2 separate regions of the Homo sapiens genome follow, and region 1 is linked to region 2. The links come from fine-mapping of genetic effects on gene expression. A gene starts in region 2. The other region holds a variant in brackets. All regions are shown on one strand. Distances are from middle to middle. Region 1 overlaps KCNA6-AS1 (KCNA6 antisense RNA 1). Region 2 holds the start of KCNA6-AS1 (KCNA6 antisense RNA 1).

Evidence for each region.
Region 1: its variant is fine-mapped to the expression of KCNA6-AS1 in aorta (GTEx, PIP above 0.99).

What each region holds. Positions count from the first base shown.
Region 1 is chr12:4,799,451-4,804,830 of GRCh38, reverse strand. It overlaps KCNA6-AS1 (KCNA6 antisense RNA 1), which reads left to right. Exons shown (of 3, transcript NR_199077.1): 3 at 1-346. Among named protein-coding and RNA genes, the nearest start is that of KCNA6, 7.2 kb to the left of the region's middle. The variant A/G (reference allele first, on the strand shown) is at 3,185.
Region 2 is chr12:4,828,467-4,833,846 of GRCh38, reverse strand. It overlaps KCNA6-AS1 (KCNA6 antisense RNA 1), which reads left to right and starts at 3,076. Exons shown (of 3, transcript NR_199077.1): 1 at 3,076-3,417. It also overlaps a transcript of KCNA6 not described here. RefSeq lists enhancers at 3,097-3,598, 4,028-4,187, 4,248-4,437.

The DNA.
Region 1 (5,380 bases), 29 kb after region 2:
AGGTCAGGAGGAAGGGCAGCCAGCATAGGAGGCTGAGGGGTTGTAGGTGAAGTCAAAGGAAAGCCAAGAGATGGAGAGCTCCTGGAAACCAACAACCAGGACTAGACCCCAGGGGCCCCATCCTCCTGGGCCCACGCTGGCCTTCCAGTGGAACACATGATCTGCAACAGGTCAGGAGTACGTGGGGGGCATCCATGGGAAGAACCACCTAAGAATGGACGTATGTGCCCACAAGATGAGCACAGATAATGTGAAGCATTGTGTGATAACCATTTATATTCTGACCTCTGCCCTAGGTTCTAAAATGTACCTATTCCAGGTATATAAATGACATAAATGATCTGTCTTCCAGGCTTCTTTACATTTTTATTTTGCTGTGTGTGTGTGTGTGTGTGTGTGCACTTGTCATCATTCTGGTAATACGATCCCTGAAGTTTTCCTCTTTCTCTGTGTAACCTCTGAAAATGGTTCTCCTCATGGTCCTGTCACCCACAGGCCCCTGCTCTGAGGACAGGGTGGCGAGTCGTCAGCTCCCTTACCTCTTACTGAGAGAACACAACACTTGTGCACAAGCACGGAACACCCTCCCTAGAATGACCCACCCCACTCTTGAGCTTTCCACTGTGGAATCCAAACCACTCAGAGCCAGTGAGAAGCAGGGGTGATGAGTCTGAGCCCGTGTCCCTCCTCTCACCATCTCACTCTGGGCAAGGCTCTGCCCTCGAGCTTTGGTTCTTCAGCGTGTTCCAAGTGGAAGCTCCTCTGTCCAAACACAGCGTTCTGCCTGGCCCAACTCCCTTCTCTGGTCCCCTCATTCACCCCTTTCCCCAGGGTCTGGGTCATGTTTACTCCTTCTCTTAACCTTCTCCTACTTTTTCTGCTGGAGAGAGAAGACAGCATTGAATCCTGGGGAAGAAGGGGAGAAAAATGGATGACCGGGTAATTCTATACTTTGCAGTCAATTTTTGCTGTTTTCCTTTTGTTCCCCTCCTTCTACACACACACACACACACACACACACACACACCAAAAATTTGGTCATCTGAGAGTTACATTAAAAAGAAGTCAGATATCTTGAACTTCGAGGGTTAATTTCCTGCAGTAGCACCCACTGGTTCCACAAACTCATTGATGTTCCCTGCCAACACTTGATAGCACAACGCTTTGACCTGAAGTTCCCTTCTATTCATTTCGTCTCTGGATGCACTGTGGCCATTTCCCTCCTCCTGGGCTTCCCCTGTGGCCAAGTGGATGGAGTCAGGGGGACAAATGAAAACACATGTGCTATACAAAAGCACTATTTATAATTAGCTGCTTAGTCCAATTTTTAATGAGGACGATGATGTCAGTTACAAAGTAGTGATGGTGATGATGATGTTCCATAATTCAGTAGAGAAAAATCTAACAGCTTTCGCTTGGGTGAAGCTGTATATTAGAAAAGAAATGCATTAGACATCTGTGCCACACCAATCAACAGCCTCAGGAAATTACTATCCATGCCAAGAAATAAATCTATAACGAACTCCTTATCCTTTCGGGGAGGATCCCAAGAGAGCTTGTTAGTATCCTAAGTTTGCAGCCTACATCTTCATCCAATTCTCCTCCTGTGATAGTCATTAATGCTGTTTTCCAAATGTCTCCAGCTCTCTACTTTTCAGGAACATGGAGAATTTTACTGTCTCACTCACTTGTGGCTGTGTGGTACCAGGCAAGTAGTTCTGGACAGTGAGTTATAAGCAGAAGTGGTATGTGTCACTTCTGAACCAAAATATTTAATTCCTCATGGGAAAGCCCCCAGAGCTTTCTTCACGCCAGCCACAATGACCAGCTTTGTTCAAGATGGTGGCTGCTCTGTCAGAGTGAGCTGCATTACAGGGTAAGGTGGCAGGAAGCTTGGCCCCCAGCCGAAGCAATAGTAGCATAAGTGAGAAACAAACCCTTATTGCTCTAATCCTCTGGTATTCAGGGATTGATTTCTTCCCATAGCAGAATCAAGTCTACCCAAACTGAAGTAAGAAGCTGCCAAAAGTAAAAAGTTAAAACCTGTGACATGGCCAGGCATGGTGGCTCACACCTGTAATCCCAGCACTTTGGGAGGCCGTGGTGGGCAGATCACAAGGTCAAGAGATCGAGACTATCCCAGCCAACATGGTGAAACCCAATTTCTAAAAATACAAAAATTAGCTGGGTGTGGTGGTACACACTTGTTGTCCCAGCTACACAGGAGGCTAAGGCAGGAGAATCGCTTGAACCTGGGAGGCGGAGGTTGCAGTGAGCTGAGATTGCACCACGGCACTCCAGCCTGGCAACAGAGTGAGACTCCGTCTCAAAAAAATAAATAAATAAAATTTTAAAAATTAAAAAAATACTTGTGACATTGGTTCTGTGGCCAGATGACAGGTATTGAAGAAATTTTATAGGAGGCCATTGCAGGCAATCCATGTTACAAATGGAAAAATATTCTGAAAACTGTCATCTGTGATAACTTAGAAAGCAGATTATATCCCTAAAATCCTGCATATCTAGGAAGATGGTTGAAAAACAGCTTGTTATATTGTATGGTGGCCACTGCTGGCTGCATCTGACAATGTAGTGCAAGATATTGATGAGTTCAGAAAAGATTTGGCCAGAAAGCAGAGATGAAATGGACAGGAGAGAGTCCAGAAATGTGGGGATTTTCAGTGTAGACAGAGACAGCTGCTTCTCATTCCCCAAAGAAGTAAACAAAACTTAAAAGACCTTTATACAAGAAAGACTGATGAGTGCTTCAGCTCATGCCATGGAACAAATCAAGCACAGGGCAGTCATGTCCATTGTCAGTTCCTCTGAATGGAATAAGTCATTTAGGGCAAAAGTTTAATTGAAGTTATGGCTTCAAAAAATCATTCAAACTGGGCAAACTGGCTCAAGTAAGAGCGAGAGAAAAAACAAGACTAAAGCTGTAACATCCCACAAATAATATATATACCCAAATTATTGCTGTTAGGTTCAAGTTGAGAAGAACCATGGCTCCCCCAGGCAAAATACACTTACCTACTCCCTAAGGAAGATAACCCCAAAGTCCTACCCAGTCCTGGTATCAAGCTGAAATGCTAGGTTCTCTAGCAGTGCGTAGTAGTTTTTATATTAAGGAGTGACATGTGCTAGTCTCTACATCAGTTTTGAATATGGATTTCTGCAATTC[A/G]GAGACTTAAAAACCCAAAAGACAAATTATCTGCCTCTATCCCATAGCACGACATACAATGGCTCCTTTAGAATAGGATAACAACTGTAACCATAGGTGTGGTTATTGGCTATCAGTACATAGATCTGCCCGAAACACATAGGAAAAAGCCTAAGAAGATTTTCAGACAGTCATCCTGCCAAAGGAACCATGACCTGAACGAAACCATTCACGACTTTTCAAAATGTAATGTACCGTTGGGCCCCTAAATTATCATGGACAAGAAGCCGGCCAAGAAAGCTGCTCAATATCATCTGCAATTCCCATCTCTGATAGGAGCAAGGAGGGCAACAGAAAGAAGACCCTCCAGAGGGACAATCCATAAGCAGAGAACGGTGGGCTGGGATCTACTCCCAGGCAGCTAAGTGAGGGTCGAATTGTGTTTCACAGGATTTCAGAGTCGTTATGGACCAGTGACTGCTGTGCTTCCCTAGTCTTCCCCCTTTCTGAATGAGAATATTGATTGCAGTTGTCCTACTTCAAATGAATCTTTTCTTGTCTTGTGGGAAAGAAACGATTACTTATCTTTTTGGAGCCTAAGTCTCAGAAAGGAAAGGATCCACATTCACACCTGATGTGGAGACTAGAACATGCCGCTCCCTAAGGTGAAAACTGCCCTGTTACACACCACAAGAGACCCTAGCATTTCAGCTTGATACCAGGACTGGGTAGGACTTTTAGGCTGTCTTCCTTAGGCAGTAAGTAAGTGGATTTTGCCTGGGGGAGACAAACATTTTGTGACCCTAATGGCAGGCAATGGTAGTCATTGCTGCTATTTGACAAACATTTCCAGCTTGTTCACCTCCTGGGTACATGGTAAGATTGTGTCTTTCTTGGTTTTCATGTGATTGAGTGAGAGTCATGTGACTAGTTCTAGCTGATAAGTTGTGCCATGTGTCATATCTGGCCTGCAGCACTTAATTGCCAATGCTCTCTTCCTCTGCCATAATGATCCATAGCACTTGAGAAGGTAGCAACCCCATCAGCCTACAACCCAGATTGAAAGACATAGACCAGAACCCTAGGAATGCCAGGGATGGCTATGTAGTCTGAGCAGTAAATAGTCCTTTGCTATAATCCACTAAGCTTTGTGGGCTGTTTGTTACTGCAGCATAACCCTGTCTCTCCTGACCAATATGCCTACTTGCATTCCTGCTTGGAAGATAAATACAATACAGAGATCATTAATATTCTATTTTCTATGCCTAGAAGAAGAGAATTGAACATGGATCATGAAATTAATTTCAAAAGCCTAACTTTGGCCAACTTTTTCATTCTTACTATTGCTTACTTCTCCTCCTACCACAGCTTTCTACAGAGATCTTCACTTTGTTTATATTAAACTGGTCTGAATTTTTGCTCTTCCTTGTCCATTTTCTGACCTAACTCTACCACTGAAATGATAGCAACCTGTTGTCTAACTCTGGTGTCCTATCTGCATCTCCAATGGGGTCATGGACAGTAGCTAAGTCTTTATGATAAAATGTTGTAACTTTCTTCTGTTTACTAACTTTTCAATAAATATTGACTAAAGATAGTAATAGCTAATGATAAGCATTTTTTGAATGCATACTGCATTCCAAGCACTTTGCTAAGAGGTATGAGGTAGAAGCTTTTCCTAGCCTCCTTTTAAAAATGAGAAAACAGAAGGACAGGAAGTTTAATTTACCAGCTCACAGAGCTAGTGGGTACCTGAGCAGGCTTCAAATGCAGCCATTCTACAAAAAAAAAAAAAATTGTTTTAAGTTATCCAGGCATGGTGGCACATGCCTGTAGTCCCACCCTGGGAAACTGAGGCAGGAGGATGACTTGAACCGAGGAGTTGGAGGCTGCAGTGGGGCTATGATCATGCCACTATACCCTAGCCTGGGTGACACGGTGAGACCCTTCAAAAAATGCGCTCAGTCTTGAGTCCAGAGCCCATGTGGGGAGCTCTCTTTCTTCATGTTCCCAAACTGTGTTCTACACAATTCTAGTTCTCACCATGTTGATAGATATTTACACAGACAAGGCACTCCACCCTGTAGCCTTGTGGTTAGGATTCCAAACTGCCGTGATCTGGGTTCCACTCCCGATCAAAGAACCAGCCACCTAGAGATGTAAATTCTTTAACTCAGAAGAAAAAGAAATTAGTTTGATAAAAAATTGATTTGATAT
Region 2 (5,380 bases):
TAATCATGGTAATCCTAGCCGTTGGTCTATTCTGGTTAGGACAGCCCCGCCCTAACCACAGCCTAAGGAAAGGCTCATAGGAGACAGCTGGGGAAGTTTTCCTCATCCTTAGGCTCAACCCTTCCTGCCTTCACACACTGTTGTGTGAGGACATGATGCTTGGAACTGCTGCTGCCATCTGTGAGCATGAGGCAAAAAGCCAAGCAAGTCCTAAGAACAGACTTCTTCAAGCCCTAACATCATTGGCTATGGCAGACCCACTACAAAAAATGCTTCCAATGCTCCACCTGCCCTTGGCAATGTGACCTTGAAGCTCCTCCCACGAAGAGGCAGAGTCTATTTCCTCATTACTGAGTCTTAGTCAACAGCACTGCAGCAGAAGTGACTGCACCAACTCCAAATCTCGTCTCAAGAGGGATACTCCAGGCTGCCCTGCTAGAGACATGGGAGCAACATGGGCAGGATACTGAGGCTCCCTGGCCAACAGCCACACAACCCCCAGCAGCACCACCTGATCAACCTAGAGATGACCACAGATGCATGAGGGATCACAGATGCATGAGGAAGCACAGGTGAGACCAGAAGAGCTGCCCAGCTGAGCCCAGCCAAAATTGCTGACCTGCTTGAATTGGGAGCTATAAAGTAATGGTGGTGTTTCAAACTTTTCGGTTTTTAATTGGTTAGCTATGTCACAATAGCTAACTGATGCATTACGAATCCTGAAGCTGTCCTTCCTCAAGACTCCATTTCATATGAGATAAAAAATATTCTCTTTTTTTAATGCCACTGTTACATGCAGCCTATAGTTCCCTGATATTGTGCTCTGAGGAATAAAAACGATGAGACAGGGCCCTGCCTTCAAGAAAATGGCAGCCCAACTACACTTAAGACGTATTTTCAACTAGGTTGTTGACCCCCCTGAGGTGAGGGTTTGGTGGCACATGTATCTCTAGAAAGGACTCTTACAGTCTAAAAATGTACAGCAACACAAGGTAACCTCTGCTGAGTGCAAAAGGAGTGGTCCAGTCCACATAAAGACTTCATGAAGAGCTGGATATGAGCTAGGTGGTCTTTGAAGGAGATTTAGGATTTCGAGTCATGAGGAGAGAGGGAGGGTTGAGAGAGGCAGGACCCTCTCTGGGTCTAGAAAGATGGATATTCCATAGGGATTTGTTCTGGAGACAGGTGAGTGACTAGGAATTGAATTCTGATGTGGTGATTTAGGGCATGAAGCACATAACAAGGACAAAACAGTGTCTCAATGCAGGCCTGCAAATGTTCATTCTATGAGGTGAAGAATGAACAGAGGGGCCAGAGGTACAAGCCAATGTCCTCTGCAGCCACCCTCAAAAGAGTATCAAAAAGCGTATTGTCTCAGGAGTATCAGGCCACCGCCCCATAACCTCAGATGTGACCAGGCCTGAAGGATCTCCTTCTACCTGTGCGTCCCTGCACCTCTCACTTTATCTTACCCAGTGGGCGCACTGCCGCTGGGGTGGGGTCACAGAGGAGGCCTTGAATCAATGCTGGGTTGTAGGTTGAACAAACTTCACAAGACTAGAAAATAAGTAATAGAGAGGTACTTGTTTTTTTCACATTGCCAGAGTCTCACATTTCCCTCTCTGTCTGAGTTTTCCCAAGCCCACAAGGGATGGTCGTGGGCTGACTGATGACACCCAGGCTCTCGGGGTCTGAAGAAAAGCAAAAGAAAGGCCCCTGTTCTCTGGTCCCAACCACAAACATGAGGGCACTAAATAATTCCACAACTACACCATCTTCAGAATCAGAGCACTAGGAAGGAGAGAGCTATTACTCATTTTGACCAGGAAGCCTTGTTTTATTTAGCAATGAGTATTTGCTAAGCGTATCTTCTACTCAATAGAACACCCTCACCATGTTTCTGTGAGACCAGAGTGATCCCCATTTTATACTGGAGGAACACAAGGTGTATGAGAAATGTGCCCAAGATCTCAATACTAGTGACTCGGAGAGCCAGGGTTTGAGCCCAGATCAGTCTGATACTGAGACCTGTGCTCTCTCTGTATATAGTATGCAAGAACTATCATTTCTTCAAAGTCTGAGCTGAATGGAAGCTCTCATAAGAGATTATTTTCAGAAGCTCCGTGTCTTAGCCAAGGGAGTAAGTGAATTAACACACTGGACTCCAAAATCCAGCTCTGTTATAAAGTAGTCATAGTAGCCACGTGGCCTTGGGCCAATCAAGTCATCACTCAGGACCCCAATTCTTTTTGGCATTTACAAAAGGAGAAAGCGGAGCTGGAGGATGGATCCGACCCCTTCCAGCTCCCATGGCTGGGAGGTTTTCCATCTCTCCCATAGAGAGGCTAGCCCAGACTGAACCAGAACGTTTTTTTCCTGACTAACGGTTTCTAGGAAAGAGGCTCATGCTGGCTGGCTCTCAGGCTCAACCCTGGTCCAATCCACTGTCAGCAGGACGGGGTCAAGCAGGTACTAACTTGGCTGGCTGCTTGTGGGTGATAACGAGTTATTGTGAAGGACTCTTGGGCCCTCTGATAGCTGCCTGACAATGCCCAACCAGAACAGTAAAGATCCACCAAGCCAGCCGCTCCGGGCCACATGCAACTTCAAGGACCACTTTGTGCATCTGCACCAAGGCTCCCTCTGTTTTGAGAAAGGAGAGCTCGTCGGTCCCATATTCCTCCGCAGTCCTTGCAAATCCTCTCACCTGGCAGGAAAGCCACTTAGGGTTGTTGTATAAGAGGAGGAGGCACAGCGGAGACCAGCTTTGTTGGCAGAGAGCTTACCTTTCCTGAAAGTCAGCGCTGAAAGATCAAAAGTCACTGAGGACCCTGCTGACTCCCCCACACCAACTCACAAAACCAACAACCCGTGGTGGGCAGGGCCTGAGAGAGGAAAGTGAACGATATCCTGCAAAAGTCTGCTAGGGGGTGGCTTCGTCTCAGTTGCAAGGCTGCTGAATAGGTAGGTAGGTAAAGGCCATGGGGAGAATCAGCATTTGGAACTCTTCCCTGGGTGCAGCGCCCCTGCCCGCATTGCCTGCAAGGCAAACCCCGCCTTCTCCCGCAGCCTCCCACTCCGCCCAAGCAGCCCAGGGACAGAGGCTGCAGGATTCTGACACAGGAAGTCTACAGTCACTGGGAGCCTCTCCAAGATACAGCCTGTGTGAAGGAAAAGGTCTGGACAAGGAGAGGAACAGTAAAGAGAAACAAAAGTCCTCGGTTTGAATGAGGAGAGATTTTGAGCCCGCAGCGGGTTGCGGGGTGGAGGATGGCGGAAGGGGCAGATGCCGTTACCGGGTTCTGTTTCTCTTTCGCTGGCCACCTTGTTAAGCTCCCATTGGCCAGGTGTCCGGAGTGGGACTCACCACTGCAGGGGGCTCCAGCCCCACACAGCCGCCTCCCAGGAAGGACTCAGGTGGGCTTTCAGGTTATCCGCGGTGGGATGCAGGGGTGAAGGAAGCTTTGGTGGTGGATGTGAGAATTTGGGATGGGGGTGTGGAACTTTACTGGCTCCTGCCATGCAGCGTGCACAGTGCTTTCTGCAGGATGGCATCGAAGGGGCTGGAGCTGGGGGGCAGCACGTCTCTGTCCTCAGACCACGGTGGAGGATGTGGACTGTCCAGGCTCCAAGCTGTCCATCCCTCAGTGCCATGACCTAACCGTTAAGTGGGATGGAGCATGGGAGGGGAACGCAACTGCACCTTTCAGAGAGAGGCCCTCTGAGCAGGAAGAGTGGCTGCAGTAGAAAAGATGTGGCTGAGAAGGGGAAGAAAGAGCCTCGCGAGCATCAGCACTAGGAGAGGCAATTGATTTCATCCTGTGAGTCTCAGGGGAGTGGAGGCTGCCCCTTCCAAAAGAACTGGCAGGACTGGCCATGAGCCAAGTAGGGAACAGCTGCTGCTGACTGAGGGAGAAGCTGTGCAGCCTCGGGCAATTCAGTCAACCTCTCTCGGCCAAGGACAATATAATAATGCCTGCTTTACTGACCTTAGTGAATTGTTACGATGTTCAATGGTGAAAGAGAGTTGTAAAATGTGAAGTGCAATTAAATGTATAGGTGCGATATTATCAGCAGAACTTCTTGGGCTGGAGGTACCCAACTATGGCTGCACACAAGAACCTCTAGAGACTTTTTTTTTTTTAAATCCTGAACTTGGAAACCACCCTAGATCAGTTATTCAAATTAGGGCAGGCAGTGAGCAGAAGGACAGGAAGTGGTACTTTTTTCAAAAGAATCTGGTGATGCTGATATCCTATGAAGGTTGAGACCTGCTACCTAAGACTTCCCCAAAATCCATGAAGGTGATCACTCAGAGCACATGTTTTTTAAAAAGGCATATTCTCAGGCTTCTCCCAGATCTTCTGAATCAAAATTTCAAGGGGTCCTGGCAACCTCTATATTTAGCGAGCAATAAGAGCAATGTGGACACGTTATGCCAGTGAAAAGTTTGTCGATTAGCTCCTTTTCTACTGGATAATCATATCCAGCAATGCTTCTGGACAGCACAGGCAAATCAGCTCAAGGAGGGGAAGCACCCTCCTCAGACGGTAAGTACAGACATGCTTTGGGGGGATGGGGTTACAGTAGACAGCCAAATCCCATCCTATTCCTGCTCCACCGGGGTGAAACTCCAATTATAAAATGACACATTTCCCAGCCAACGTGCCTGGGAACCTTAAGATAAAAAGGAAACGATGATGAGTTATCTATAACTAACAGCATCAATTATGAGTGCTTTATTGTGTCAATAGATTGTTCAGGCTTTCTTGCTTCACACACTGCGGACTCTGTTCCATTCATAAAATTATACAAACACTTGCATATCCATGCACATGCACTCACAAACACAGAGACCCCAAGCTCGTCAAACACACAAATGGGAGGACGAAGAGGATGACAGGAGCCGGTGAACTCTTATCAGGCAACTGCATTACTCCGTTCTAGCATTATTTGCAGGATTCCATGCTACATTAGCGATGTTCCCAGGTAACAGGACCCCAGGGATTCTTCATTTTAGCTCTTTCATCCCACAGGGGCAACACTAGTTTAGCAGATAAGAGCACGACTCTGGAGCCAGACTGCCCAGGCTGAAATCCTACCACCCCACTTACTGGCTGTGTGTGACTCTGGGCAAGCTACTTCTGTGAAATGGAGATAATAACGGGGCAACTGGGACGATTAAATGCGCTGGTACACATAAGCCCTTAGAGACATGCCTGGCAAACAAGATGCTATGTGAGTGTCCGCTGCTATCAGTGATTGTTGTTTCTGTTGTTGTTTTACTATAGGTGAGAAAGGTGATACCTAGAAAATTAATTGCTCACTTTGTTTACATCTCTTGACTCTTTTAGGAGTATAGCCAAGGAAGGAGTCATAA